Linked DNA regions of Homo sapiens: regions 2, 3, 4, 5, 6 and 7 are each reported to be linked to region 1. Evidence: microRNA targets listed by miRTarBase, many of them from high-throughput screens and not tested one by one. Region 1 holds a microRNA gene; each other region holds the end of a gene's coding sequence.
What was found. Region 1 holds the annotated microRNA hsa-miR-23a-3p (AUCACAUUGCCAGGGAUUUCC, at 1,151-1,171, opposite strand). A microRNA usually pairs through its seed, bases 2 to 8, with sites in the 3' UTR of a target mRNA and lowers its output. Matches are read on the target gene's strand: a 7mer-m8 pairs with bases 2 to 8, a 7mer-A1 pairs with bases 2 to 7 and ends in A, and an 8mer does both.

Region 2: miRTarBase lists TSNAX as a target of hsa-miR-23a-3p. Seed matches in the 3' UTR shown: 8mer at 1,131-1,138 and 7mer-A1 at 2,305-2,311.
Region 3: the mRNA of SLC35G3 is a reported target of hsa-miR-23a-3p. Seed matches in the 3' UTR shown: 8mer at 2,764-2,771.
Region 4: the mRNA of FUT4 is a reported target of hsa-miR-23a-3p. Seed matches in the 3' UTR shown: 8mer at 1,234-1,241, 7mer-A1 at 1,320-1,326 and 7mer-m8 at 3,799-3,805.
Region 5: miRTarBase lists FSD1L as a target of hsa-miR-23a-3p. Seed matches in the 3' UTR shown: 7mer-m8 at 1,264-1,270 and 7mer-m8 at 4,040-4,046.
Region 6: the mRNA of TNPO1 is a reported target of hsa-miR-23a-3p. The part of its 3' UTR that is shown has no 7-base or 8-base seed match.
Region 7: the mRNA of TOR1AIP1 is a reported target of hsa-miR-23a-3p. The part of its 3' UTR that is shown has no 7-base or 8-base seed match.

Annotation. Positions count from the first base shown.
Region 1 is chr19:13,835,445-13,839,523 of GRCh38, forward strand. MIR23A (microRNA 23a) reads right to left here and starts at 1,215; the gene lies at 1,143-1,215. MIR23AHG (miR-23a/27a/24-2 cluster host gene) reads right to left here. Exons shown (of 1, transcript NR_036515.2): 1 at 1-4,079. MIR24-2 (microRNA 24-2) reads right to left here and starts at 915; the gene lies at 843-915. MIR27A (microRNA 27a) reads right to left here and starts at 1,073; the gene lies at 996-1,073. RefSeq lists enhancers at 3,148-3,257, 3,288-3,507, 3,728-3,827.
Region 2 is chr1:231,564,040-231,568,118 of GRCh38, forward strand. It overlaps TSNAX (translin associated factor X), which reads left to right. Exons shown (of 6, transcript NM_005999.3): 6 at 489-2,485. The coding sequence ends at 866. The region is part of intron 4 of TSNAX-DISC1 (TSNAX-DISC1 readthrough (NMD candidate)); the gene reads left to right. Among named protein-coding and RNA genes, the nearest start is that of TSNAX, 37 kb to the left of the region's middle.
Region 3 is chr17:35,190,031-35,194,109 of GRCh38, forward strand. SLC35G3 (solute carrier family 35 member G3) reads right to left here. Exons shown (of 1, transcript NM_152462.2): 1 at 2,490-4,079. The coding sequence ends at 3,261. It also overlaps the pseudogene SPICP2. Among named protein-coding and RNA genes, the nearest start is that of SLC35G3, 2.3 kb to the right of the region's middle.
Region 4 is chr11:94,545,274-94,549,273 of GRCh38, forward strand. It overlaps FUT4 (fucosyltransferase 4), which reads left to right. Exons shown (of 1, transcript NM_002033.4): 1 at 1-4,000. The coding sequence ends at 453. It overlaps PIWIL4-AS1 (PIWIL4 antisense RNA 1), which reads right to left. Exons shown (of 5, transcript NR_135093.1): 5 at 59-573. Among named protein-coding and RNA genes, the nearest start is that of FUT4, 3.4 kb to the left of the region's middle. RefSeq lists an enhancer at 225-899.
Region 5 is chr9:105,546,053-105,550,131 of GRCh38, forward strand. FSD1L (fibronectin type III and SPRY domain containing 1 like) reads left to right here. Exons shown (of 14, transcript NM_001145313.3): 14 at 306-4,079. The coding sequence ends at 431. Among named protein-coding and RNA genes, the nearest start is that of FKTN, 10 kb to the right of the region's middle.
Region 6 is chr5:72,904,691-72,908,769 of GRCh38, reverse strand. It overlaps TNPO1 (transportin 1), which reads right to left. Exons shown (of 25, transcript NM_002270.4): 24 at 3,325-3,467; 25 at 1-61. The coding sequence ends at 3,360. Among named protein-coding and RNA genes, the nearest start is that of MIR4804, 28 kb to the right of the region's middle.
Region 7 is chr1:179,917,983-179,922,061 of GRCh38, forward strand. TOR1AIP1 (torsin 1A interacting protein 1) reads left to right here. Exons shown (of 10, transcript NM_015602.4): 10 at 1-2,094. The coding sequence ends at 257. Among named protein-coding and RNA genes, the nearest start is that of CEP350, 35 kb to the right of the region's middle.

The sequences.
Region 1 (4,079 bases):
GGCGAAACTCGGTCTCTACTAAAAATACAAAAATTAGCCAGGTGCGGTGGTGTGCACCTGTAATCCCAGCTACTTGGGAGGCTGAGGCAGGAGAATCGTGTGAACTGGGGAGGTGGAGGTTGCAGTGAGCCGAGATCGAGCCATTGCACTCCAGCCCGGGTGACAGTGCGAGACTCCATCTCAAAAAAAAAAAAACAAAAAAAAAAAAACAGAGTCCTAACTCTTCCCTGCCCTGAGAACCCCCTCAAGGCAGGGAGGATCAGCTATTCCCAGCGCCTCAGGACTAAGCACACCTGCTTGTGTCCCTTCTGGGTCCACAAGGAACTTGTTCCATGCCCCACATGTGGGGCGGGTGTCACTGCTCCTCCCGGCAAGTTAGAAAGCTGCAGGGCCCAGCAAGAAGGGGCCAGGTCAGGTCAACCCAGCCTGATACCGGAAGCCAGGAGTTGGCATTTAACGGTCTGGAGGCCCAAGGCAGCTTCCTCTTGGGTAACTGGCTGCTAGGAAGGTGCGGGCCGGGCCAGTGCCCCTGCCAGGCTTGGGAGAGGAGGGGCCAAGCCTCCAGGCCCGGAAAGGACACAGCTGGCTTCCCTTTTAATGGAAGGGCCACCCACTCACCCACCTATCTATGCTGGCACCACAGCCCAGCCTGAGCTGTGGCCATGCAGGGGTCCCCAGTTGCAGAGTTGGGGATCAGGGCCTGCAGCACACATTTGGGCCCAGCCAACCCCACCCACCACATCCCTCCTCCAGACACAGGTCTGATTCTGAGTCCTCATCTCTGCTCCAAGCATCAGCCCACCCAGGGAAGGCAGGGGCTGCAGGCTCCAAGGGGGCTTGACCCCTGTTCCTGCTGAACTGAGCCAGTGTACACAAACCAACTGTGTTTCAGCTCAGTAGGCACGGGAGGCAGAGCCCAGGGAGGCCAGGCAGCAGGATGGCAGGCAGACAGGCGGCAGCAGGGGACAGGCGGCAAGGCCAGAGGAGGTGAGGGCCTGGGGGGCGGAACTTAGCCACTGTGAACACGACTTGGTGTGGACCCTGCTCACAAGCAGCTAAGCCCTGCTCCTCAGGCCAGGCACAGGCTTCGGGGCCTCTCTGCCACCCCGTCCCCGGGCAGCATCCTCGGTGGCAGAGCTCAGGGTCGGTTGGAAATCCCTGGCAATGTGATTTGTGACAGGAAGCAAATCCCATCCCCAGGAACCCCAGCCGGCCGTGGCACAGGGGTGAGGGGGGCACCGGGCGGGGCCAGAGGCTGGCACCTGGAGGGGAGAAAGAGAGAGAGAGCAAAGGAGGTAATGAGATTTGGGGACACCTCCCCTCCAGGTCCCCAGATGCTTCCTTTGATCACAGGGAAGCTCTTTTCTCATATGCAGGAGCCACCACACGGGGAGCTGGAGCCTAGCTGTGCCCTCCGTTCCAGCCCCAGGACTGGAGAGGCAGAGATACCTAGAGGGCCCATGCGGGACAAGGAGGCTACAGCAACTTGCATGGCCAAGCTCCCCCCTCATTGAGCCCTGGGCAGGCCAAATGGGGCCATGGGGAGAGGAAGCCAAGGGGGGCCAGGCAGGCGGGTGAGGAAGTGATCTCACCCCAGCTGGCGCCACTTCCTAGAAGCCTGGAGGGCAGGAGGAAACCACCAGGGCCTCCCCCCCCGTGGCCCGGTCTCCTCAGTGGCCAGGGCTTAGCCCACACCCACCAGGGCGGATGCCGGCAGCAAGGCACCCCCCTCTCTTTCTAGACACGCACCCCCCGCCCCCCAGAGCACAGGATCCAAGCTCCAAGATACAGGCCTCTCCACCCAAACAGCCCAAGGTTCAAATCCTTGCTCCACAGTTTCCCAAAGACTCTCCAAAGCTTCAGTTTCCCCATCTGTAAAATGGAGCCAAGAGCCTCTTTTGCATAGCCCAGTGAGATGTCACCGAGTATGTATGTCACTCAGTAAGTGCCCAGCACCAGGGCAAGATACAGGATTTTCAGGACCCGGTGCAAAATGAACACGTGGTCCTCTAGTTCGAAAACTAAGAATTTCAGGCCAAGCATGGCGGCTCACGCCTGTAATCCCAGCACTTTGGGAGGCCGAGGCAGGAGAGTCACCTGAGGCCAGGAGTTCAAGACCAGCCTGCGCAATACGACAATACCCCATCTCTACAAAAAAAAAAAATATTTTTTCTTTTTTGAGACAGGGTCTCACTCTGTCGCCACGGCTAGAGTGCAGGGGTGCAATCACAGCTCACTGCAGCCTCAGCCTCCCAGGTTCAAGTGATCCTCCCACCTTAGCCTCCGGGGTAGCTGGGACTACAGCTATGCACCACCATGCCCGGCTAATTTTTTCTTTTTCTTTTCTTTTTTTTTTTTTTTGAGACAGAGTCTCGCCCTGTCGCCCAGGCTGGAGTGCAATGGCGTGATCTCGGTTCACTGCAACCTCCACCTCCAGAGTTCAAGCAATTCTCCTGCTTCAGCCTCCCGAGTAGCTGGGATTACAGGTGCCCGCCACCACGCCCAGTTAAGTTTTGTATTTTTAGTAGAGACGGGGTTTCACCATGTTGGCCAGGCTGGTCTCGACCTCCTGACCTCAGGTGATCCGCCCACCTCGGCTTTCCAAAGTGCTGGGATTACAGGCGTGAGCCACCACACCTGGCCCTAATTTTTGTAGAGATGGGGTTTTGCCATGTTGCCCAGACTGGTCTCCAACTCCTGGGCTCAAGCAATCCGCCTGCCTCAGCCTCCCAAAGTGCTGGGCTTACAGGCCTGAGCCACAGTGTCTGGCCCACAAAAAATTCACTAAAAAATCAGCCAGGAGTGGTGGTACACATCTGTAGCCCCAGCTACTCAGGCGGCTGAGGTGGGAGGACTGCTTGAGCCCAGGAGTTTGAGGCTGCCGTGATCTATGACCATGCCACTGAACTCCAGCCTAAGTGACAGAGCAAGACCCTATCTCTAAAATAAACAAAAACAAGTTTAAAAAAAGAAAATAATTTCAGGCTGAGCGCGGTGGCTCATCCCTATAATCCCGGCACTTCGGGAGGCCAAGACAGGAAGATCGCTTGGGGCCAGGAGTTCGAGACCAGCCTGGGCAATACAAGACAAAAAAATTAATAATAATAAAAAAAAATTCATGACCCCAGCAGTGCAACATTAAACTAACCTCCAGGTCCCTCCAAGCAGGGCTGCCGTGAGACTGCCCGTTTCACAAATGCATGAAGCCAGCCCTAAGTCTTTAGTGAGTGGAGCTTCTTTTGATAAGAGCCCAACACCTGGCTAGCAGACTCCAGTTTTGGAGCCCAAGTCTGCCCAGATTTGAAAGCCCCAGCTCTGCAGCTTCTGAGCTGGGTGACTCTGGGCAAGTCACTCAACCTCTCTGGGCCTCAGCTTCCCCATCTGCAAAACAGGGATAATAAGTATGGACTTCATAAGTCATGGTGAGGACCCCATGAGTGATAAACATGATCACGACAGAGCTGCTGCTGTCTTTGCCAAGGCAAAGGATAACGGAAACGTGGGTGTCTCACACCAGGACCCCAGTGTCCGCCCGATGTGGTGGCGCTCACCACTTCGAGACAGGCGGCGAGTGATGTCCTGTTTTGTCCCCTCCCTATACACACATACACACATACCAGCCACTCTTTCCCATCAGGCCCCAGCCCAGCCCTGTCCCCTTAGGGTCTGGAGGCGCCAACTGGGAGCAGGCGAGGCCCCGCAGGGCGGCCAGCCTCCCTGGGCCGCCTCCGGAAGTGAGACAGCACATTCGTGTCCCAGGGACGAGAACGGGAAGGGCGGCCATTTGGCCAGGCTCGTTTCCTGTGGGGTTTCCCCTGCACAGAGCCCAGGGCCGGGGCCAAGGCCACTCCCCATCCCCGCAGGCACAAAAGGTCTGGGTCTTGAGTGGAAGGGGTGCTGCCATGCAGGTGCCCAGGAGACAGGGTCCCCTTTACCAATCATGGTGCACTTCTCAGGCTCTTGGGAGATGGTGTCCAGGGGGAAACCAAGCTCCTAGCAGCTGGAGGCATGAGGGAGAGGGCGGGCCCCTGGGCTGGGGAGCAAAGCAGGCCCCAGGCTGCATCAGGACACCCCGGCCA
Region 2 (4,079 bases), not on the chromosome of region 1:
AATTGAGGATGCAGTGAGAGAATAATAAATTGTGATGGTGAGTGCTGAATAGGGAAAGACAAGAAGCCAGAAAAAGACTGAGCTTCTTAGGAAAACATTAATGGATCACAAACTTGGAGGGCTGTATGGTTTTTCATTTAAGAAAGTAATTGTCGTGCAATAAAGTTATTAAGCCTTGTTCAAGAATATTTTTATTTTGTACATCAAGTGGAGTTGGAAATAGTTGGTTTCATAATGATATATTTCAAAAGTATCTTGAAGTCATCTGGTTCATTTCACTACCCAGGGCACACATTCCTCCTGTAACATCCCAAGTGGTTATTAAGCAAAACAGATTTATTTTATTTAGAAAAAATTAGTATGACTGATTTGCTATTGATTTTGTACTTCTATAATAAATGTGATACATGCTATATTCACTCTTTTTCACAGTGTTCTTTCTTGTGTGTGTGTGTGTGTGTTTTTGTTTTGTTTTGTTTTTTTACCAGCCCTCCTCTGATGCACAGGATAAGCAGTTTGGTACTTGGAGACTGAGAGTCACACCTGTCGATTACCTTCTGGGAGTGGCTGACTTAACTGGAGAATTGATGCGGATGTGTATTAACAGTGTGGGGAATGGGGACATTGATACCCCCTTTGAAGTGAGCCAGTTTTTACGTCAGGTTTATGATGGGTTTTCATTCATTGGCAACACTGGACCTTACGAGGTTTCTAAGAAGCTGTATACCTTGAAACAAAGTTTGGCCAAAGTGGAGAATGCTTGTTATGCCTTGAAAGTCAGAGGGTCAGAAATTCCAAAACATATGTTGGCAGATGTGTTTTCAGTTAAAACAGAAATGATAGATCAAGAAGAGGGCATTTCTTAGAATCTAACGTTACTCAGTTACTAATTCTTTTGAGAACTCCTAAGAGACCAATTTGTAAGACTTATTTAGTATTTCATTTAACTTTATTGTGGCTTTTACATAGAAACATATTCAGTTGTACTTGTTTTAAATTGTATACAAGCTGTACATAAAATTAGCCAAATGAATCATTTCTTATATCTTATTCATGAAAGTTTGCATACAGATGTTTGCATATATGCCTTTTTGAATTTTTGCTGGTTAACCTTTATCATTTATCTTTGTAATGTGAACATGCTTCAGAGTGTACCTTTTGCCATAACCTATTTTAATTTACTTTTTCTGAAGTTTGGAGTGATAATTTTTAGTGGAAGCAATTTGTAATTTAAGTTGGTAGTTATATTATATATAGAAAAGATTTTTTAGTTAAACTTCTGGACATGAGCGTCCTGTTTAAATTTCTTGTTAATATCGTGCCAAGCCTCAAAAATAGGCTTATTCCATGGAACAAGAATTAAAAATGAATAAGCTATCAATATATAATTTAAGTACAAGTTTAGGCTGGGCGTGGTGGCTCACGCCTGTAATCCCAGCACTTTGGGAGGCCGAGGTAGGCAGATCACGAGGTCAAGAGATCAAGACCAGCCTGACCAACGTGGCGAAACCTCGTCTCTACTAGAAATACAAAAATTAGCTGGATATGGTGGTATGTGCCTGTAATCCCAGCTACTTGGGAGGCTGAGGCAGGAGACTCGCTTGAACCTGGGAGGCAGAGGTTGCAGTGAGCCGAGATTGCGCCACTGCACTCCAGCCTGGGTAACAGAGCAAGACTCCATCTCAAAAAAAGAAAGAAAGAAAAAAGAAAGTACAAGTTTATAAAGTATTATAGTGAAAAATTCGCATTCTGGCTGATTTTAAGCCATTTAAAATTTATATAAAACAACCTTCCATAAAAATTTGACAGGTGCCCAGATGTTGCTTTCTCCATTTATTTTTTGTTTTTTTTTAATCACAGTAGGTCTGATAGAGAATTGGAGCTAAATTATAATATTTTTGTTGGTAAAGTTGAGTTATATACTTGTACATACAATGGAAATGCTTTTAGTAGTGATTATTTAGCAATTTTTGTTTTTGTTATATTAGGCATGTTTGGAGGCTTTCCTATTCTAGCATTTAAATTTAAATTTTATTAAAATTAAATAATTTAAATCTAGCATTTAAATTTAAATAATTTAAGTCTAGCATTTACTTTTAAATAATTATAATGAAGTTTTGAAATACTAAGTTAATCCAGACCTTTAGTTGTCCCATGGTGTTAATAAAGTTGCCAAAGAAGATGTATTATGAACAATTCAGCAATAAGACAATTGTCAACACAGTTGAGAATAACAATGGTAATCGTTAGTAATATTTAGAATTGGAATTTGCCTACTGAAATAGTTATAGATGATTACTTGTGATGTGAAACTGAATTGAGCATGACAACCAGACATTTCCAGTTGGTTTTGTAAGTTTTGAGAATCTAGATACTGGGTTTTATTTTTTGAAAGATTAGCTCTGTTTGTAAGGGCTGATTCCTTGAAAATGTAATTTTCCAGAAAAACACCTAAAGAAAATAAAACATGGACATGCCTAGTAAATTCTGTTTTTTTGTTTGTTCGTGTTAGTGATGGTGGGTTTTTTGGTTTTGCAACTCACCTGTAGTCAACTCACTACAGGTGAGTTGGTGCCATTGCTACTGATATATCTCCACAGTTCATGTCATACTAATACTGTGGGTGTTACGCCAACTCTGAGTCTCACTTTTAAAAATACTTACTATGATGGCATCATGTGTGGTAACAGTTTTCATCTTTAATAGAAAAAGAAACTGGTTCTAGGTCACATGGTAAGTTACTGACAAAATTCTGAAAGAATATTGGGTTCTTTCATAAATAATTTCCAGCATGTATTACATCAGTGAATTTTTTTATTTTTTTAGACTTAGTCTCTCTCTATTGCCCAGACTGGAGTGCAGTGGCATGATCTTGGCTCACTTCAGCCTCCACTTCCTGGGTTCAAGCGATTTTCCTTCCTCAGCCTCCCGAGTAGCTGGGATTACAAGCACATGCCACCATGCCTGGCTAATTTTCTATTTTTAGTAGAGATGGCATTTTCATCATGTTGGCCAGGTTGGTCTCAAACACCTGACCTCAAGTGATCCTCTCACTTCAGCCTCCCAAAGTGCTGGGATTACAGGCGTGAGCCACTGCGCGCAGCCTACATCAGTGATTTTTAAAGTACACATTGAGTGCGCTGGGGCTTTTTGAAGGTGTCTCAAAGAAAGATGATATTTAAATTAGATTGGCAGAACAGATTTGAAAATTCAGTCCCTTTATGTCTACATAAGAGTTACTTTAGATTCAGACACACAAGTAGATTGAAAGTAAAAGGATGGAAAAAGATACTCCATGCAAACAATAACCGAAAGAGAGCTAGAGTGGTTATATGAATAATATCCAACAAAATAGACTTCAAGAAAATTATTTTTTGCCAGAAACAACATACAATAAAACACTCAACCCATCAAGAATACGTACCAATTATATACGTGTGTATATACGTGTACACACATATTTCTAACAGAGCCCCAAAATACATAAAGCAAAATTTAAGTGGAGAGAAATAGACAATTCAACAGTAATCATTGTAGATTTCAGTACCCCACTTCCAATGGCTAGGACACCATGACAGAAGATCAGTAAGGAACTTGAACCACTCTGTAGACCAATTGGATTTAACAGACATATATACAGAACACTCCACTGAACAGCAGAATGCATATTTTTCTCAAGTGCACATGAAACATTCTTTGCAAAATTTCAGACCACAAAACATCTCAATAAACTTAAAAATACTGAAATCATACAAAATGTGTTCTCTTACCACAATGGAATGAAACTATAAATCAATAGAAGGAAAGTGGTATAATTTACTAATAGGTGGAAGTTAAACAATGTACTCCTAAGTAACCAGTGGATCAAAGATGAAATCACAGGGAAATTAGAAAATACTTGGGGGTGAATGGAAAGAAAAAGTTGATATACAATAGCATATGGGATGCAGTGGAGCTGTGTTGAGATAGAACTTTATAGCTTTAAATGCCTGCATTTAAAGAAGGTTTCAAATTAATAAGCTAAACTTCAGCCTTAAGAAATTAGAAAAAGAAGGGCAAAGTAAACCACAAAAGAAGCA
Region 3 (4,079 bases), not on the chromosome of region 1:
GAACTCCTGGGCTCAAATAATCCTCTCACCTCAGCCTCGCAAAGCGTTGGGATTACAGGTGTGTGCCACCGCGTCTGGCCAAAACAGTACCAGTCTTATGCAAACCCTTCCAAAGAAGATAAAAGAAAGGACACTTTCAGCTCTTTTTATGAGGATAGCTTGATAGCAAAACTTAACAAAGACATATAGGAAAATTGTAGACCAGTATCTTTTATGACTATAGGTACAAAATCCTTTACTAAATACTAGCACCCCAAATCCACCAATATATAAAAAGATAACACATTAATCAAGTTATGTTTATTCTAAGAACAATAAGTTGGTTAATATGAGACTATCAACCAATATAATGTACTACATCAACAGAATAAAGAATAAAATAATGACTATCTCAATAGACGTAAGAAAAGTTTTTGATAAAATTCAGTAACAATTCATGATAAAACTCTTCAGTAAACTAAAAATAGAAAGAAGCTTCCTTAATGTGATAAAGTTTATCTGTATAAAATCTATAGCCACTGTGATATTTAATTATCCCGAGATTAAGAATGAGATAACAGTACTTGCTATTACCAATTGTATTCAACTTTGTACCGAAGAGCGTAGCTAGTACAAAAAGGCAAGAAAAGGCAATGAAAATCATAAAATTGGCCAAACGTGACAGCTGTTACAATGGCAGGTTACAGGTTAGCCAAGCGGGAGGCAGACATGTGTTTCAGGGGAGGGGAAGGCTATTTCCACCATATGCAAGTGGATGCTGCATTGGACACTGATGGGCAGAACCATCATGCTGGAAAATAATTTTTTATTTTCATGACAGCCTACCATTGAATTTACAATTCTGATATTAATGAAATATCTCTATAAAGGGTTGAAGTGTCTTCCTGCAACAATTGCCAAGGAACAAAATTGTCAATTTATTAATGAAACATGACGTGTGTTGAACAAGACAAGCTGGGTCAAGCATTTGAGGATGCTTTTGAGGCACTGAGGCAACATTCAACTGGAGATCTTTAGTACTCGCCAGATTACAAAAATTACCTGGCTTTAATCAATTATTGTCCTCACGTCAAAGGAAATTCCAGCTGCTATGGAGTGTTGCCTACAGAGGAACCTCTCTGTAATTGGAGAACGGTAATCAACAGTGCTGCGGACTTCTATTTTGAAGGAAACATTCATCAGTCTCTGCAGAACATAACTGAAAACCAGCTGGTACAACCCACTATTCTCCAGCAAAAGTGGGGAAAAGGCAGGAAGAAGCTTAGACTGTTTGAATACCTTCACGAATCCCTGTGTAATCCGGAGATGGCACCTTGTATTCAGTGGGTAGATAAAATCAAAGGCATCTTTCCGTTTGTATCAAAAAACAAAGGAAAACTTGCCGAGCTTTGGCGGAAAAGAAAAGGCCGTTGGAAGACCATGACTTATCAGAAAATGGCCAGGGCACTGAGAAATTATGGAAGAAGTGAGGAAATTACCAAAATCCGGAGGAAGCTGACTTACCAGTTCAGTTAGGCCACTCTCCAAAGACTCTCTCCATCTTATTTCTTGGGGAAAGAGATCTTTCCCCAAGTGTGTTAAACCTGATCAGGAATATCTCAGTTTAAATAACTGGAATGCAAATTATAATTATACATATGCCAATTACCATGAGCTAAATCACCATGATTGCTAAATATACTCTCATATTTCATGGTTTCCTGGCATTGGAAGTCCCTACAGTTTTAAGGATTTCTCACTCTCTGTCTCTTTTTTCCTTCCTCTGAAGGAGTTTAGGATTTTTCTCTTAAAGCAAACACTAAAGAGAAAAAAAACCAAGTAACTTTATTTGCTGCTTTTATCAAAGAGCATGTAATCTATACTAACTCAGTGGGAAATTCTGCCAATGAGCAGCTTTTTTTTTAATACTCTATGAAGATTCAATGAAAAACTTTATTGTTTCAAATGATTAAGTCCATTTGAAACTATAGACTAAATGTCCTTGCTCTGCTCTTACTATTCTCTCTAATTTTTTTATTTTATTATTTTTTAAAAGAGGTCTCAGCCAAGACAATTTTAAATTTTTATGGATTTAGGAGTACAAGTGCAGTTTTGTTGCATGGATACATTGCGTAGTGGTAAAGCATATTGCATAGCATCCTCATCATCAGAATAGTGAACATTGTACCCAATAGGTAGGATTTCATCCCTCATCCCCCACCCATCTGCCCACCTTTTGGAGCCTCCGGTGTCTATTACTCCACTCTGTATGTCCATTGCTAAGCCCCCAACTATACTCATTTTATTTTATTTTAAAACTTGTTTTCTTTTTCTGCATACTTCAATGGATGCAAACTCTTTTCATTTTTTCTTTTCCTTTCACAGACAGTGACTTCATTTTTTTTTTTTTTTTTTGCTGCTAACTCCCAAGCACAACACAGTGACTTATGTTTTTAATTTTTTTAAGAGGCAAAGCCTACCTCTGAAGCTCCTTTTTTTTTTCTTTTCCTACTTCAATAAGCTGGTCTACATTCTTACTCTTCTCTATGCAACCACTTTCTTCTAGATTAACAGTGCTAGTACAGATGATTTGATTTATACATTGATTTCAGCATTTTCTTTTCATGTACTCAGGTGAGGAAAATCACTCTTTTATATCCAATGACTTTACAAAAAATCATTTACAAAGAAGTGACTGCATATGATAAAATATTTGTGCCAAAATAAATTCATGGCTTTTAAAATGTCATAGAAATGTCTATTCAGGTATCTTTTTTTTTTTTTTTCACATTCACTGTAATCCTTGTTTGATGTCAATGTCACGTCACCACCCCAAGCGGGGGGCACAAGCACGAGGAAAGGAAACCTTCCCCGTGAGGGGAGGGGTGGGGAGGCACGCTTCCCTCCCCCAGCGCAGCTGCTGGCTCTGTCTTTGCCGGAACACTCCAGCCCCAATGCTCTTCTCTTTGCTGCTGAGTGAAGTCCTCCCCATGGCCCACGGCCTCCCTGCCTCAGCCCTTTGGATCTGCTCCTCAGACTTTACCCCTTAGTTATGCCCTGATTCTAGGACCCAGCCTGGACTCCACATCCCTTGGTCCCAGGCTGGCCCCAGGTCTTCCACGTAGTCCCTCTCCACCAAGTCCCCAAGTCACCCTTGACTCTGAGAGGTATCCCTCTCCCACACCAGTTCTTTTCCAGTCACTTCTCCTCCCATGTTTGTCTTCAGTCTTTGCCTTTATTTATCCCTGTCCCTCCCAACCCCCGGGCTCCCAAGTTCTATCTCACTCCTCCACCCTCCCTGTCCTCTCACAGCTGAGGTTCTGGGCTGTAATGATGGCAATGCTGCCCAGCACAACCCCTGCCGCCACGATGTCAGAAGGTGCCACAGTCTCATGGAGCATATAATACTGCAGTATAAGGGCCACAACCACCTCGGAATGTAGGACAGCGCACACCAGGGCAGGGTGGGCCTTGGTGACCGCATAGCCCACACATGTGAAGGAGACCAAGGCGAGGATCCCCACTGCCCCCACACAACTCCAACTCAGGAGGTCACTGGGCAACACGGGGGCCTGCAGCACAAAGAGGCCTGGCACAGAGCCCAGCAGCCCCACCAAGCCAGATAGGAAGGCCACTGTTGGGAGGCAGGGGGGAAAGTGCAGAGAACGATAGACCAGAAGCCTCAGGGACAGCGCCAGGCCTCCCAGGAAAGCCTCCACATAGCCCAGGGCGGTGTAGACACCCGTGGTCCCCTCCTGTAGTGTCCAGAGTCCAGGTCCCACAATGATGATTAGTCCTAGGATGCAGCCCAACAGTCCACACCAGTCGTAGCCACTGAGACCCTGGCTCTCAAGGCAGAGAGTGAGGACGGCGGAGCAGACGGTGGAAGAACCTTTGCGAACAGTGGCAGCGTTGCCAGCGGGCACCACCTGAACCGCACTGTAGGCACATCCAATGCTGAGGATGTTGAGCAGGGCACAGAAGAAGGCCCGGCTTCGGATGTCAGGAGTTCCCAGAAGGGGGTCGCCACGCAGTTTAAGTAGCAGGGCAATAGGGAGGTGGAAGAGGCATCGCCAGATGAGCAGCTCCAGCGAGGGCAG
Region 4 (4,000 bases), not on the chromosome of region 1:
GTGACCGTGGACGTGTTCGGCCGGGGCGGGCCGGGGCAGCCGGTGCCCGAAATTGGGCTCCTGCACACAGTGGCCCGCTACAAGTTCTACCTGGCTTTCGAGAACTCGCAGCACCTGGATTATATCACCGAGAAGCTCTGGCGCAACGCGTTGCTCGCTGGGGCGGTGCCGGTGGTGCTGGGCCCAGACCGTGCCAACTACGAGCGCTTTGTGCCCCGCGGCGCCTTCATCCACGTGGACGACTTCCCAAGTGCCTCCTCCCTGGCCTCGTACCTGCTTTTCCTCGACCGCAACCCCGCGGTCTATCGCCGCTACTTCCACTGGCGCCGGAGCTACGCTGTCCACATCACCTCCTTCTGGGACGAGCCTTGGTGCCGGGTGTGCCAGGCTGTACAGAGGGCTGGGGACCGGCCCAAGAGCATACGGAACTTGGCCAGCTGGTTCGAGCGGTGAAGCCGCGCTCCCCTGGAAGCGACCCAGGGGAGGCCAAGTTGTCAGCTTTTTGATCCTCTACTGTGCATCTCCTTGACTGCCGCATCATGGGAGTAAGTTCTTCAAACACCCATTTTTGCTCTATGGGAAAAAAACGATTTACCAATTAATATTACTCAGCACAGAGATGGGGGCCCGGTTTCCATATTTTTTGCACAGCTAGCAATTGGGCTCCCTTTGCTGCTGATGGGCATCATTGTTTAGGGGTGAAGGAGGGGGTTCTTCCTCACCTTGTAACCAGTGCAGAAATGAAATAGCTTAGCGGCAAGAAGCCGTTGAGGCGGTTTCCTGAATTTCCCCATCTGCCACAGGCCATATTTGTGGCCCGTGCAGCTTCCAAATCTCATACACAACTGTTCCCGATTCACGTTTTTCTGGACCAAGGTGAAGCAAATTTGTGGTTGTAGAAGGAGCCTTGTTGGTGGAGAGTGGAAGGACTGTGGCTGCAGGTGGGACTTTGTTGTTTGGATTCCTCACAGCCTTGGCTCCTGAGAAAGGTGAGGAGGGCAGTCCAAGAGGGGCCGCTGACTTCTTTCACAAGTACTATCTGTTCCCCTGTCCTGTGAATGGAAGCAAAGTGCTGGATTGTCCTTGGAGGAAACTTAAGATGAATACATGCGTGTACCTCACTTTACATAAGAAATGTATTCCTGAAAAGCTGCATTTAAATCAAGTCCCAAATTCATTGACTTAGGGGAGTTCAGTATTTAATGAAACCCTATGGAGAATTTATCCCTTTACAATGTGAATAGTCATCTCCTAATTTGTTTCTTCTGTCTTTATGTTTTTCTATAACCTGGATTTTTTAAATCATATTAAAATTACAGATGTGAAAATAAAGCAGAAGCAACCTTTTTCCCTCTTCCCAGAAAACCAGTCTGTGTTTACAGACAGAAGAGAAGGAAGCCATAGTGTCACTTCCACACAATTATTTATTTCATGTCTTTACTGGACCTGAAATTTAAACTGCAATGCCAGTCCTGCAGGAGTGCTGGCATTACCCTCTGCAGAACAGTGAAAGGTATTGCACTACATTATGGAATCATGCAAAAGGAAAAAAAGTTTCATGATATCTGTTGTTGGCAGTTTTTGTTTATCTCTGACAGTTTTTAGTTAAATGTTTAGATCCTCAGAACTACATTAGTGCCTACTATTAACTTACTCTGTCTCTTGTTAAAGGCTAAATCTGCGCTTCTCCCTGGTGCCAGCAGGTTCCCCTCACAGTCAATGCAGTGGTATAGCATATCCTCACATTTCTAGTGCCCTTGAGACTGTGCTATGGAACCAATCTTGAACATACATGCATTGACTTGACAAGTTACTGAGTAAGCAGCATATTCAGCAGGTGCCACTACATGCCTACTCTGCCAGACACTGAGCTTGGGGCCCTAGGGAAGATAGAGAATTATACAAGGCAAAGTCCTTCTCTTTAGGGCTCTTACAATCTATCACTTCCAAAAAGTAAATGGTGACTGATAAAACAATTGGCAGAACCTGTTTGATTACTGTGACAGTCTTAATGATACCATAAATCAATATTAGAAAGCTAGTTGACTTAAAGCCTGAAATAATGGGAGTTTTCTCCTCCACTTATTAGAATAAGGACCCTCAGTGACTAATTATTGTGGGTAGGGTCAAGATTAACTAGTTTTATACAGAGTTCTGCTGTAAATAGTCATTTTGCATTTGATTAGTGCAGTTCTCTGAATCATAAAGCAAGTTTTACCTCTCTGTACATGTTTTTGCAGACATACTTGAAAAGCTCACTTAAATCTAGGTGCTTCAATTCACTTTCTTGAGAGGACAAATGAAAAGCTGTGGAGAAAATGTCCTCATTAAAGTATTAAAGTGTGGGCAGAATTACAATTACAAAGTGCCAGCCACCGAATAAAGATAAAAGTTCAGTTCTTAAAATGAGTTTTTATGAGATAACAGTCAGTGATCTTGGTGTTACCGGGATTCCACATGGGGCAGTGGGAAAGAGTTCAGGTTTTGAAGGTAACCTAGTTTAGATTTGAATTCCAGCTATGTGACATTGGGTAAATTAGTAGTAGTCCTGAGCCTCAGCGTCCTCATCTATAAAATGACTGGCGAAAATACTTCACAAGCTCATTTTGAGCACTTTAGGAAGTAAGTGAAAGTACCTAAAATAGCAGGCACCCAATTGATGATTTTATATCTTCCTTCTTTGCTTGCAGTGATTTCAGGATGTCCTCATATCTATTTATAGGTCTAAAATTATATCTTAAGGTATGTTGTAGAATAAATTAAAAGGATAATCTAAATCACCATTTAGATTAAGCTTGACTTGCAAACTAGGAAGAAGCACCTAGGCTTTCTTTGAAAATATTTTTTTGGTTCGTTTTGGTAAAGCTCTATAAATTGGTATCTATTATTTTACCAATTTTTTTTTAGTATTAAGTCCATTTAGAACTAACCATATTATTTATGGAATAATTAGCATGAGGAAGGTATAATTGCATTTTTTTTTTTTTGAGACGGAGTCTTGCACTGTAGCCCCAGCTGGACTGCAGTGGCGTGATCTTGGCTCACTGCAACCTCCGCCTCCCAGGTTCAAGCGATTCTCCTGCCTCAGCCTCCCGAGCAGCTGAGACTACAGGCGCCTGCCACCACGCCTGGCCAATTTTTTGTATTTTTAGTAGAGACTGCGTTTCACCATGTTGGGCAGGCTGGTCTTGAACTCCTGACCTTGTGATCCACCTGCCTCGGCCTCTCAGAGAGCTGGGATTACAGGTGTGAGCCGCCGTGCCCAGCCATTGCATTTTTATTCACATACACATTGTTAATGTGGAACAATTTAACACTAATCTCATCAGAGAGCGAGATGAATGTGGCAATTGCTCATTTTATTTTGCATATATTAAATTGAGTAGGTTCAGCTCTAACATACCTTAAGAAAAATGCATATCGGTGCACTGTATGTATTTCAAAATGCCTTTCCTATGATTGTCATGTCCTCCTTTAAGGCTTTTCCCTCAAATTTATTACAAATTTAGTATTTTTAGTACTTGATGACTCTAATTACATGAATGCACCTGGAATGACATTTGTAACAGAAGACGGTCTGACTTGCTTTCAGTATTCACAAGTTCTTTCCAGTTTCCAAGTCTTTTCCTAGCAGTAATTTAGGGGAGACAGAGGAGTTTCATGTAAAGAGCATGCAGTTTGGAGTCAGAACCTGGGTATGACTCTGTGGCCTTGATGAAGCAAGTTACTTAAACTCTTGAGTTTTAGCTTTCTCCTTTACAATGCATGAATGCCTATCCCCCTACAAAACAAAGATTAAATGTGATGATGTATGCCAAGGTGCTTTGTATATTGTAAAGTGCTATATAATTATAAGATGTTCTAAATTTTCAAGGATCTAAACCAGGGATTGGCAAACGTTTTTCCAGGGAGTAAATATTTTACGCTTTGCATATATAATTTATGGAGGTGTTGAGAGGATAGATTAGACACTTGAAGTACTCAGGATAGTGCCTGGCAT
Region 5 (4,079 bases), not on the chromosome of region 1:
GATAGGTAATACCTTTTGCCTAGATTAAGCCAATGAAGTTTCTCAATTTCTGCACCCCTGAGTTCCTTCTCTTGGGTGCAGCTTCAGTTGGTTCTGCTACCACCAAGACCTCCTCTGGCCTCTGTGGTTCTAAAATAATTCTGATTTAGTCTTTCCATTTCCCCTCAGCTGAAATATGACAGTTAATGTGTTTGAGAATGATTGATGTTCATATGTGTGGCATTTTGCCTTTGAAATGGAAATTTAAAAATCACTGAAATTCTAGTTTGATTTGCAATCTGACAGGTTTTTTTGTCTTTTCTTAGGTATGGTGTGGTGGACTTTCTTTGAGTACTGGGATGCAGGTTCCAAGTGCTGTGAGAACACTTCAGAAAAGTGAAAATGGAATGACTGGTTCAGCTAGCAGCCTGAACAATGTTGTTACTCAATAGTGTCTACTCAGAATACGTTTACCCTCCGTCTTGATTAGGTGGCCTTTTCTGTGCAGTTACTAATCACAGGAATTTGGTAGTAGTGAAAATCAGGTTTGCTGTGTTCTGCTTTGAGGCCTGGAATCTTTTATCATTAAACACCTAGTACGAAGCATTTGCAGGAACCTACTGTGCAGTATCATAGAAGCAAGCAGATACCAAGCAAAAAACTGATGATTGAAGAGTAAATGGGGGAAAAGGCAGTGTTTAATTAACATAAAAACTCATTTTTGTATTTCTTGGATTACTTTGACTATTCTAATGTTTAATTACATATGGTAACCCTAAGGCCTGGGGAGAAAAGCTTTTAAATCTTGCCTTCTTTCTTCTGTACTTTGTCTTTTTAAAATCTCATTACTATCTATTATTTAGTTCTAACACAGAAGCTTTAAAAATACATAGTCATCCAAGGTTTTCTAAAAATTGAAATCATATGTTGGGAATGGTAAAAAGGTTTTCAAATGGTTTATTTTTCCTCTTTTATAAATAAGTTTTACAAAATTTTCCTCTTTTGTTTATTGACTAGATTGTATATAATTTTCTTTTTTCCAAAATATTGTGATAAGAAATTTCTAGACACAACAGCTTAAAATCACCCAAATTTCAGTTCTTTACCTACTGCACTAACAATGGCAAGGGGGGTATTCTTTATATGTTGCCTTGTTTAACTACAGTTCTTTTCATTCCATCACTTTAGGTGATGGGTAAGATTTTTGAAAGCCTTATATTTTTTGATTTTGTTGTCTAGTTTAATCCTACCTTTAATAGTTGTGTTTGGTAAAATTCCCACTTGAATGTGACACTGATAATAATTATGCTGATTTTTAGCATCTCTTATAGGAATCAAAGTTTATTAAAGTTACATAGAGGATTGAAAAATGTATATCACTCAATTTTTATCTAAGAAGGATAGGTTATAAAGGGAGGTACCTAAATACTCAAATAATGTATATATTCTTTTTCATAACATATGGAATGCTTTAAGCAATTGTTTTGAAAAAAATCTGCGTATCTTTGACTTAATTGGCACATGACTTTTTCAAGCAGCCATTCATTCAGAGGTTTGTTTTCTCTCAGTCCTTTTGCTACATTCACTTTCTTTTCAAAGAAATGTTAATTATTACAAAAATTGACATAGATATCTTTCCCAAACTTGGGGTAAAACCCATGGTTATGTGGAACATAACTGTTCTTAAAAAGTCAATTATAATTTGTAACTCACATCCTTTGAGCTAAACTAAATTAAAATTACAGTATTTAATAATTCTTTGGGCATTTTTAAGAGGTCTGAATTTGTATTTTTCTTCATTTTTGAAACTTTACATTTGTTGACTTTTTTTCATTCTCATTTAAAATATATTGTGCTATGATAACCAACCTTCTTCCAAGGAGTGACCATTACTGCCTACATTTGCGTTGCTTTCTACATAGAGACTTGTATAATAGTATTAATAGTAGCTCATTCTCTCTAAAAATTTACTGCCCACTGATAGGATGTTTTGTTTCCTTGATAAAACAAATGTAAATGAGGAATTTTATTTGAATTGGAATATTGTTTTTCTAGAGGACATTCATATCTGCACTATTATCTGATGACATGTTGGTAATTTTAAAGACTGCAAGGCAGTTTAGAGAATGAAGTAAACCAATAGATACTCTTTTGATTCTCCAAAGAAATATAATTTTGGTTTTTGTTCCTCAGAGAGAGTTTGAAAGAAATTTTCAGATGTTCTGTTCCCTATAGAGGGCCTATTCCAGGATCTAAATGAATGGGAATTTATAATTCCTTTCATAGACTCAAACCTGAAAGCAGAAATTTTTAGTAGTTGAGTTGCTTTAAGTGAATTTTAACAAATATGACACAGAAAAGGTCAGATGCTGTTGTATAAAATTTTTTACTAGTGTGTCTTATATAATTCTTTCTTCTCATTAATTCAGTGCCTTTTTCCTCTAAGCATACTCTTGGTCCATGCCCCATGCAGTGTCAACTGATGTTTAAGCTACAGAGCATTGTTGTAGTGGTGAGGGCCCTCTGTTGCAGGGGCATGGGGAAATGCATATATTAATCAGGGGCTGGAGGAGTATACATGATTCTTGTGTTCATGTTGTCATTTGAAACTCTTCACATAAAATTTTCTAATATTCATTTGGAAAACCTCTCCACTGGAGAGGTTTCATCTCTGAGAGGTTTTGTAATAATAGTGTAAGTTCAGTAAATCCAGTCCAAATTCTCATCACATGTATTATTTGATACTAAATTTTCAATTATTACTTCAAAATAAGAGTCTGAGGATTTCTTCTTACTGGCGTTCTTAAAGGTCTCTAAAATTAAAGAACAAGATGTGGTTTTTTGTTTAAGACGTTTTTAGTTTATTTGTTGTTAAGTTAAACTGGAGAAAGTTTGTCATCCTCATTTTCAAACTGAAAACTAATCAAATATAGTGCCTATTTAGTCTCAAAATAAGGTAACTATTAACTTGATTATACTATATAATATTCTCAATTACATTTGAATTTAAAAATATTGAGCTCTTGATTACAATTTAATACATTGTAAAAAGTATTAAATCCTTTGAAACATCTTTTGTTGCTTATTTAGTTTTTGTTTCTACAGGTCAAACATGATTGCTTTCTATAAAAGAAATGCTTGAGAGGTTGACTATAATGGATATGTCACAGGTATAAAACAGTTGTTTTCTAAAAACATGCATTTAGTATGGCATTCTCTTTTAGCAACTGAATTCCCAACGAGTTTTATTAAGCTGGATATCGAAATGAAGGAGCTGCCTTAAGCACTTTAGAAAAAGAATTTTTTTACAATTCATTTTGACTCTCATGGCTGACCATGTCATTATGTCTTTAAATTTTGGTAAATATGTAGATACCAAGCATTAATAACTAATGCACACAGAAATTTAATATACAGCAATTCTTTGAATGTTCCAGGTGTACGTAAACTAACTGAAAGTATTAAGGACATGCCTGTCTATACATGGGTTTCATTGATGGTATCTGTATCATCTTGACAAATCGTGAACTGCTGCTGTATGGCTAGACTTTGCCTATTTACTCTGTTATGCAAACAGTAATTTTTCCCTATGTTATGAAGAGAGACATATTGGCTTGCTTTAATTTACTTATTTATGAAATTAAAGCATGAATAATATGTATAATTTGAATTTTTTGTGACTGATCCTTGGCAGTATAAATGATAAAAGTAAATGTAATGGAATCTTTTAATTAGGCTAAGATATGCTATTTCATAACTTATGTAGAATGATTTTTATCTATATACTTTGTCCATAAAATTATAATTGTTTATGTAATTTTATTGTTTCTTATGGAAACAATTGGAAAAGTATATGGAAAATGATTATTTCAAAGAATATTTATTTAAAGAGGGAAGTGTAGACTTCTTACTGTAAAATATGTGATTCCAGGCTTAAGAAATTGATTATATTTTAAAATAATTATTTTTTTAAAAACGTAATTTGTTTTTAAAAGATGAGTCTCCATTCATTGGCTAATCCATACAGCAAATATTTGAGTGTTTGTGATATGGCAGTAAAAATGTGATTACTTTGTATGTACATTAACCAAAACCAGTGA
Region 6 (4,079 bases), not on the chromosome of region 1:
GTAAAGGGTAACATTTTCCCTGGGTGCAGAGGCTCCCTTATAGTCTCCAAGACTGAAGGACCTATAAGAAAAAGAACAAAAACAATTTTATCTTTAACAATCGTTTGTCTTTCAAAGCCAGTGGAACAAAAAATTAATCAAATAAGAATGCTATCTTTACCTATAAAGAAAATGAGAAATTTGGACAAATTGCCTAATATCGTGTTAGTCACTTATAACCATGCTGCTTCCTTCTCCTATGGCACTGAATTGTTTGCTGCATCAGGTATGAAAAGTGAGGTCAAGCTGGGTAGGAGAGTTGTATAGACAGGTGTACAACACTTTGTATAGTGAAATATGCCTCGTATGATGCTATCAGTCTAATTCTTTATCCCCTTTTGCAAAATGGGACCCAATGGGAACTTGTTATTTCTTATATAACAAGTGGCCTTACTTTCTTAAAAATAAAGTAGCACTTTCTTTAGGACAATCCTTAGAATGAAAACACCATCTTTTTTTCCCCCAGTATTCCCAATATTAAGCAAACAGAAATCCAACCTATCAAAACACAAAAGAGCATTTGTTATTTGGGGTTGTCTGGTATTTTAAGCCTAGAAGGCACTAGAAGTGTTCATTACCACAGCAGGGTCACTACATTCAGTAAGTATCAACAAACAAATTCTACATAAAAAAAGAGAGAGAGAAAAAAGCAAATTTAACATTTATTTATTTATTTTGGAGATAGCACCTTGCTCTGTCACCCAGGCTGGAACGCAGTGGTGTGAATATGGCTCACTGAAGCCCCAACCTCCTGGGCTCAAGCAATCCTCCTGCCCAGTCTCCTGAGTAGCTGGGACCATAGGTACATACCACCATGCCCAGCTCATTTTTTTCTTTTTAATTTTTTTCATAGAGATGGAGATCTCATCATGTTGCCCAGGCAGGTCTCAAACTCCTGGGCTCAAGCAATGCTCCCACCTCAGCCTCCCAAAATGCTAGGATTATAGATGTGGGCCATCACACCCTGCCTACACTTGCCTTCTTGATGTTCCTAATTAGTTCCCATTCTGATCCTATTTCACTTGGTCATTTCCACTATCTTCCAGTCACTTGGTTTTTCTGGTAGGAACTTTTTTCTATGCTAAACAGTTTTAATGATAAAAAGGATATTAAGAAATAAGGTAAGATTACTGGGAGATTTAAACTGTTACCTGATAGTGGTCCTTTTACAAACAGAACTCTACTACCCAATCATGCCAAGTTTTGGCCATTTATGAACGTTCATGTGAATTCACAGAGGGCAGTTAATCCATCTGTGTAGAAATATAAGCAATCCCTTTTCTCCTGCCTCTGAAGAAAAGGAAGAGGAGTACAAAAAGGCAGGAATAAAAGATACTGATCTACTTTTAGCTCTAATTACAAAACCGAGAACTATTTCATACCTTGTCTTAGAACAGTTAATTCATGATTGGTGATGAGACCACAGAGGTAATAAATCTGAAAGTGCTCAAGACTTGTTAGTAGCTCATTGAAGCTTTGAAGCTACAAGTCATTCTCATCTTTTGCATTCTCATAATTTAACATAAGGTGAATCCAGCACTTTTCCAAAATGCCAAAGCCATTTTGGAAAACAGCTCTTGAGGACTCAAGACTGAAGTAGGACAACACATATGAAGGGCTCTGACACATTCTGGAAGCTTTGAGTCCATTTCTACTACCTTCTAGGTTAGACAGCTTGGATGGTGAAATCTTTCCAGATTTAAATTTTAGCTTGGAGTAAACAAGCAAGCAAGCAAGCCAAAAAAACTCCTCCAATTCAATCTAAAGTGTAATTCAACTTGGTGTACATCTTCTGTACATGCTCATTCAGCACATCTTCTGGCTTCCAGTCAGATATGTCTTAATTCATGTTGAAAATCTAAAGATGAATGTCAAAACCCTGATATTTATTGTACTGGCCCAGTTCCTAACCTTTACTGAGTCAACTTAGTGTGCCAGGCAACATACTAAGTTCTGGCATCACATACAGTATAGTATTTAATCCTCAACATAACTCAATGACAAAACCGAAGCTCAGAGATGAGAACTGCTAGTCCCATTTAAGTACAGAAGAGCTCAAGGAGCAAGAGTCCAAATGAATATAGTCCATCCCAAATTAAAACAGAATCTTTCATTGCTTATTTTAAAATATAGTCCTAGGCACTGGGCTCAGTGGCTTACGCCTGTAAATCCCAGCACTTTGGGAGGCCGAGGTGGGTGCATCACAAGGTCAGGAGTTCGAGACCAGCCCGGCCAACATGGTGAAACCCCATCTCTACTAAAAATACAAAAATTAGCCAGGCATGGTGGCATGTGCCTGTAATGCCAGCTACTTGGGAGGCTCGGGCAGGAGAATTGCTTGAACCCAAGAGGCGGAGATTACAGTGAACTCAGATTGCGCCACTGCACTCCAGCCTGGGCGAAAGAGTCTCTGTCTCAAAAAAAAAAAAAAAAAAAAAAAAAAAAAAAAAAAAAAGAAAAAAAAAAGTGATGGGCACATGGTAGGTACTCAGTGAAACATACAGTGAAAAACAAAAACAGTGGGCCAAAACCCAACTGAGTTTTCTTTCAAAGCACGTGAAATGAAAAGTCCTTGTTACAGCAGAGACTATAAATTCATGCTCCAAAATGAAATCAATTTTACCCCATCACTATGAGTGCCGATGTCTTCTTGCAGGAAAAAAGAAAGAAAAAAGGAATAGTTGAAGCAATGTTGAGAAATCCAACCAGTGTACCAACGTGGATTTCTTTATACCTACGATTCAAACTGGAGCTAATCGTTTTTCTGGGCTTGTTGGTTCTATTAAGAAAATTTCTTTAGCCTTCACTTGAGTAATTTTATTTTCTATTTATTTGAGATGGAGTCTTGCTCTGTCCCCTAGGCTGGAGTGCACTGGCAAGATCTTGGCTCACTGCAACCCCCATCTCCCAGGTTCAAACAATATTCCCACCTCAGCCTCCTGAGTAGCAGGGACTACAAAAGCACGTCCCACCACACGTGGCTAATTTTTGTATTTTTAGTAGAGATGGGTTTTCACCATGTTGGCCAGGCTGGTTTCAAACTCCTGACCTCAAATGACCTGCCCACCTTGGCCTCCCCAAGTGCTGGGATTACAGACATGAGCCACCACACCTGGCCCACTTAAGTAATTTTAAATTTAAAGCCCAAGATAGAATGATATGAGGCTATGTTTTATTCAACCTCTATAGAAAACAAATAGCTTTTTATTCTATTTAGTAGTTTGAAATGACAGCCCTAACAAAATTTTCTTCATCCTGAAAATTTCCAAACTTCTTATAACTTACCCCTAATTTTGGGACTGCAGCTTAAGTGTATTAGATTAAACACCATAAAAAGCTGCAAGACGCTCTTTTAAGGGAAGAGGAAACTGGTCAGAGAAACGCCTCCAATTTTCATCGCCAACTTGATTTTTAAATCCATGAAGGATCTGTAAGAGTGAAAAACCATTAATTTATCAATAACAAGAGAAAAATTCAGATCAGCATAGCTTCTGAAATCCAACACAGCTGATTTTTTTATAAATTTTATCCATTTTAAAGTAGCAATTCTCAAACTTCGTAGGATTCTACACCATTCCCTGCTAATATGGTCTGGCTCTGTGTCCCCACCCAAATCTCATCTTGAATTGTACTCCCATAATTCCCACGTGTTGTGGGAGGGACCCAGTGGGAGATAACTGAATCATAGGGGTAGTTTTTCCTATACTCTTCTGGTGGTAGTGAATAAGTCTCATGAGATCTGACGGTTTGATAAGGGGAAACCCGTTTCACTTGATTCTCATTCTCTTTCTTGCCTGCTGCGATTTAAGACTTGTCTTTCACCTTCCACCATGACAGTGAGGCCTCCCCAACCACATGGAACTGTGAGTCGAATTAAACCTCTTTCTTTTGTAAATTACCCAGTCTTGGGCATATCTTTTTGTGTGTGTGGCGGGGACAGAGTTTCACTCTTATTGCTCATGCTGGAGTGCAACGGCATGATCTTGGCTCACTGCAACCTCCACTTCCTGGGTTCAAGCGATTCTCCTGCCTCAGCCTCC
Region 7 (4,079 bases), not on the chromosome of region 1:
AAAACGCGGCCTTCAAAGATGTAGCCTTAGTCCTGACTGTCTTATTGGAGGAAGAGACACTTGGAACAAGTCTAGGCCTAAAGGAAGTTGAAGAAAAAGTAAGAGATTTTCTTAAAGTCAAGTTCACCAATTCTAACACACCCAACTCCTACAATCATATGGACCCAGACAAACTGAATGGCCTCTGGAGCCGTATTTCTCACTTAGTTCTGCCTGTGCAACCTGAAAATGCCCTGAAAAGGGGCATCTGCTTATAAGAAGTGAGAGAGAAGAAAAATCATGTCCCAAGTTCTGAGAATTGTTCACACTTTCTAACCAGAGACAGAATTCAGAGCTCTTTTTGAAAGAACTAGTTTCTTTTTAAAGAAGTTAAGTGCTTACATAAACATGGAACATATAAATCATTCATTCAACCTAATTATCTGTGATATGAGAGAATCATTTCAGTTTCCATTGAGAGCTCTGTTAAAGGTATCTTAGGAGTGCAGATTATATGCAGTTCCTTAGAGAATCTGTTTTGATTCTGGGCTGAGTTATTACAGTTATGGTATGACCAGTGAGAGGGATTTGTGTCCTTTCTTATGAACCTTCCTGATTTTTTAACTTAGATTTCTCACTAAGTTTCCTGAGTTATTAGTAAGATTGCTCCCTAAATGTAACCAGGGATTTTCCCATTATGTTCCCTTTTATACCATTTAGGTGTGAGTTCCTTAGCTTCTGCCTATAGGAACATAAGTAATGAAAGGTCATCTAGGTGTGTGTTTGGAATTTTTTTCTTTTGTTTTTTGGAAAATGGAAAGAACAAGGCAAGGAAGGAAAATTAATGGGGAAGCTGAAGGGAGGAAATGTTACAGTAATCCACTGAGATGTAGTTTAGTCAAACATAGGTATATGAACTGTTAATCTTGGTGGATTCCGTTGGGATTTGTTTTTTACATCTCCTTTTTCCTTCCTTGAAGAAAAATTCTTGGCTGTCCCAAGGATTCTTCATGTATATTGCAAAATTTAATATATTTGTTCACTTGAGTCTTAAGAGTAGGTCAGGCCAAGGCAGGTGGATCACCTGAGGTCAGAAGTTCAAGACCAGCCTGGCCAACATGGTGAAACCCCGTCTCTACTAAAAATACAAAAATTAGCTGGGCGTGGTGGTGCATGCCTGAAATCCCAGCTACTTGGGAGGCTGAGGCAGGAGAATTGCTTGAACCCGGGAGGCGGAGGTTGCAGTAAGCCGAGACCATGCTTATTGCCCTCCAGTCTGGGCAACAAAAATGAAACTCCGTCTCAAAAAAAAAAAAGTAGGTCAATTCGTAACAGTTTATTTTGGACACACCCTGAAGCTTTTGTTTTGAATTAAGAAATGAGTTTCAGGAATTGACAAACCATTTGTTAACCAGCTGTCCTGGGCTATTGAAGAAGATTTCATTTTCCGCGCATCCACTTGTTGCAGTCCAAGTCCTCTAGTGCAACGCCATAGCAAATATAAAGATTTACTATGCACGTGATACATTTTATGGAGTGCCTCAAGCCAAGATAGTGAATTTATATGAAGGGTGTGAAATGTATTTCTTTACTACTATAGTAGTTTAGTTATAACTTTGCATCTATAATTGAGCTTTCTCATCTGTCAAATGCTATGGTTTTCTTAAAATGTTACAATTCTAGATCTATCCACCTTGTTTTTTTATTGTCTACAAACCATTAAATGTAAATATTGTTTTTAGAGTCAGTCATTGGCTTTGTCATTTACCCTTTGAGAGTTCCACAAGTGGTAGTAGAGTGGTTTAACGTCTTTCCTCTAGTACTACCAGTATTCATAAATGTATACCCCTTACTGTAATTTGTTCCTCTTAGAAGTCAGATCATCTGATTTATAGAGGATTATGAAAACCAGAGTTTTTGAAAAGGCTTATTTTATACATACGTATTATATAGAGAAACAAATGTTTTTATTAAATGTTTCATTGACCCAAGTAATTTAAAAGTAATATGTTACCTATGTCTTTCAGGAAAAATAATTATAGCAGCTGATCTGTAAATGACTTTAAAAGCTATTTTAGTAATTTAAATAAATTTACTTTCTTGGTTTATACTCTCTATGTGTTATAAACTTAATGATTTATCATCTTTAAAAAAAGAAATCCAAGTATTTTCCTTGAACAATTGTAGCAACTCTGGCTAGGAGAAACAAAAATCAAAGAACTGGAGCCATTTGCAAGTACATTGGTTAGAAGTGGAATAGCCGTAACTTTCCATTTTATCTCGGCACTTAGGGTTTTTAAAAATACAGTTAAGTTAGATATTCCTGACTTAGCAAAAGAATCTCCACAGCAGCTTTTCTTTTTTTTTTTTTTAAGTAGACATGGGATCTCGCTATATTGCCCAGGCTGTTTTTGAACTCTTGGCCTCAAGCAGTCCTCCTGCCTAAGCCTCCTAAGTAGCTGGGATTACAGGCATAAGTCACTACACCTGGCTTCTTAACCTTTTCTTTATCACCTCCCTGAAGAACTTTTTTAGATTTTTTTCTTAGTCACCCCTTCCCCATGATATTTCAACACCAGATATATACTATGTATCTGTTTATGGACTGTAAATGTTTTTTGCTTTATACAAAATAGAATTTTTTTTTGTCCCCAATGAACCAATTTTCACCCCCATTGAGAATGCATGCTCAAGAGCATCCACGTTTTAGATAATTGCTGCCTAAAATGTTCTATTTGCTATTCATGTTACTGTGATCCTTTTAGAAGGGAAAATTTATTTTTTATTTTTTTTATTTTTTATTTTTTTTATTTTTGAGACAATCTCACTCTTGCCCAGGCTGGAGTGCAGTGGCGCAATCTCGGCTCACTGCAACCTCCGCCTCCCATGTTCAAGTGATTCTTCTGCCTCAGCCTCCCGAGTAGCTGGGATTACAGGTTCACACCACCATGCCCGGCTAATTTTTTGTATTTTTAGTAGAGACGGAGTTTCACCATGTTGGCCAGGCTGGTCTTGAACTCCTGACCTCAGGTGATCCACCTGCCTTGGCCTCCCAAAGTGCTGGGATTACAGGCATGAGCCGCGGAGCCTGGCCTAGAAAGGAAAATTTAAGTAAGATACCAGCTTCAGAATAGGAGCTAGGGTCTAGAGAAATGGAGCACATTGTAACTGGCTGACAACAGTGGCCCAGGAAAACCACAGTAACTTAATTTGAAACTTAATTTGCTTCCCTTGTTTTAATGACTTTTTAATATTTAAAGATGTTTTCTAAACCTCTAATCCTCAAAACAAAAATTGGAAGTAAACTGATTTTCATTCAGTGAACTGCCATTTAGAAGTGATAGGGGTTTACATACTTTGTACCATTAGTTAACGCCTAAGCTAAAAGTATAATATCCAGTTTCCCTATGATCTCAAGTTTATGGAAAGTAGCCTTTCTTTTGGCAGTGTAAACAAGCAGTTACATTAAATACGTAAAGATAATGCATTATTCTGCTATTTTGTCCTTATCAAGATCATGTAGTAAAATTTTGTGGTATAAGAGGATAGTGTTTTTCCCTAAGGAAGAGGATTTTATTGGCATTAACCACCAAAGATGGGGTTCCTGAGCCTGGAAAACCAAGCTGAGAAGGCTGCCATTGACTGGAAAAGGAGGAAATTCCTCCCTTGAATGCCCTCTTTCTGGCCTGGATTCTGAGAATTCCTTGTGTGTTTAAGGACCCTTGTGGGTGGTAGAGAAACTAGTTCCTGTCACCTGAGCATAAACAGAAGAACCCCTTTGTACTCTACACCCCAGACATAATGAACTACTTGCAATTTCCTAAACACATCATTCACTTGTCTTTTGCACATTCTTAGACTCTTGGAATACTTCATTTCCTGCCCTCTCGCTTTCTCCAATCTCATGTTCTGCTAATTTTTATTTGTCCTTAAAGTCTTCGTTTTCTTAGGGCAGCACTTCAGTGAAATCTTTCATAATTCCCTTCCCCCAGATACTATTTTAGGTGCCTCCTGTTTTTTTTCTTTCTTTCTTTCTTTCTTTCTTTTTTCTTTTTCTTTTTTTGGTAGCTTAAACAATAAGACCTTTATTGTTACAAAAC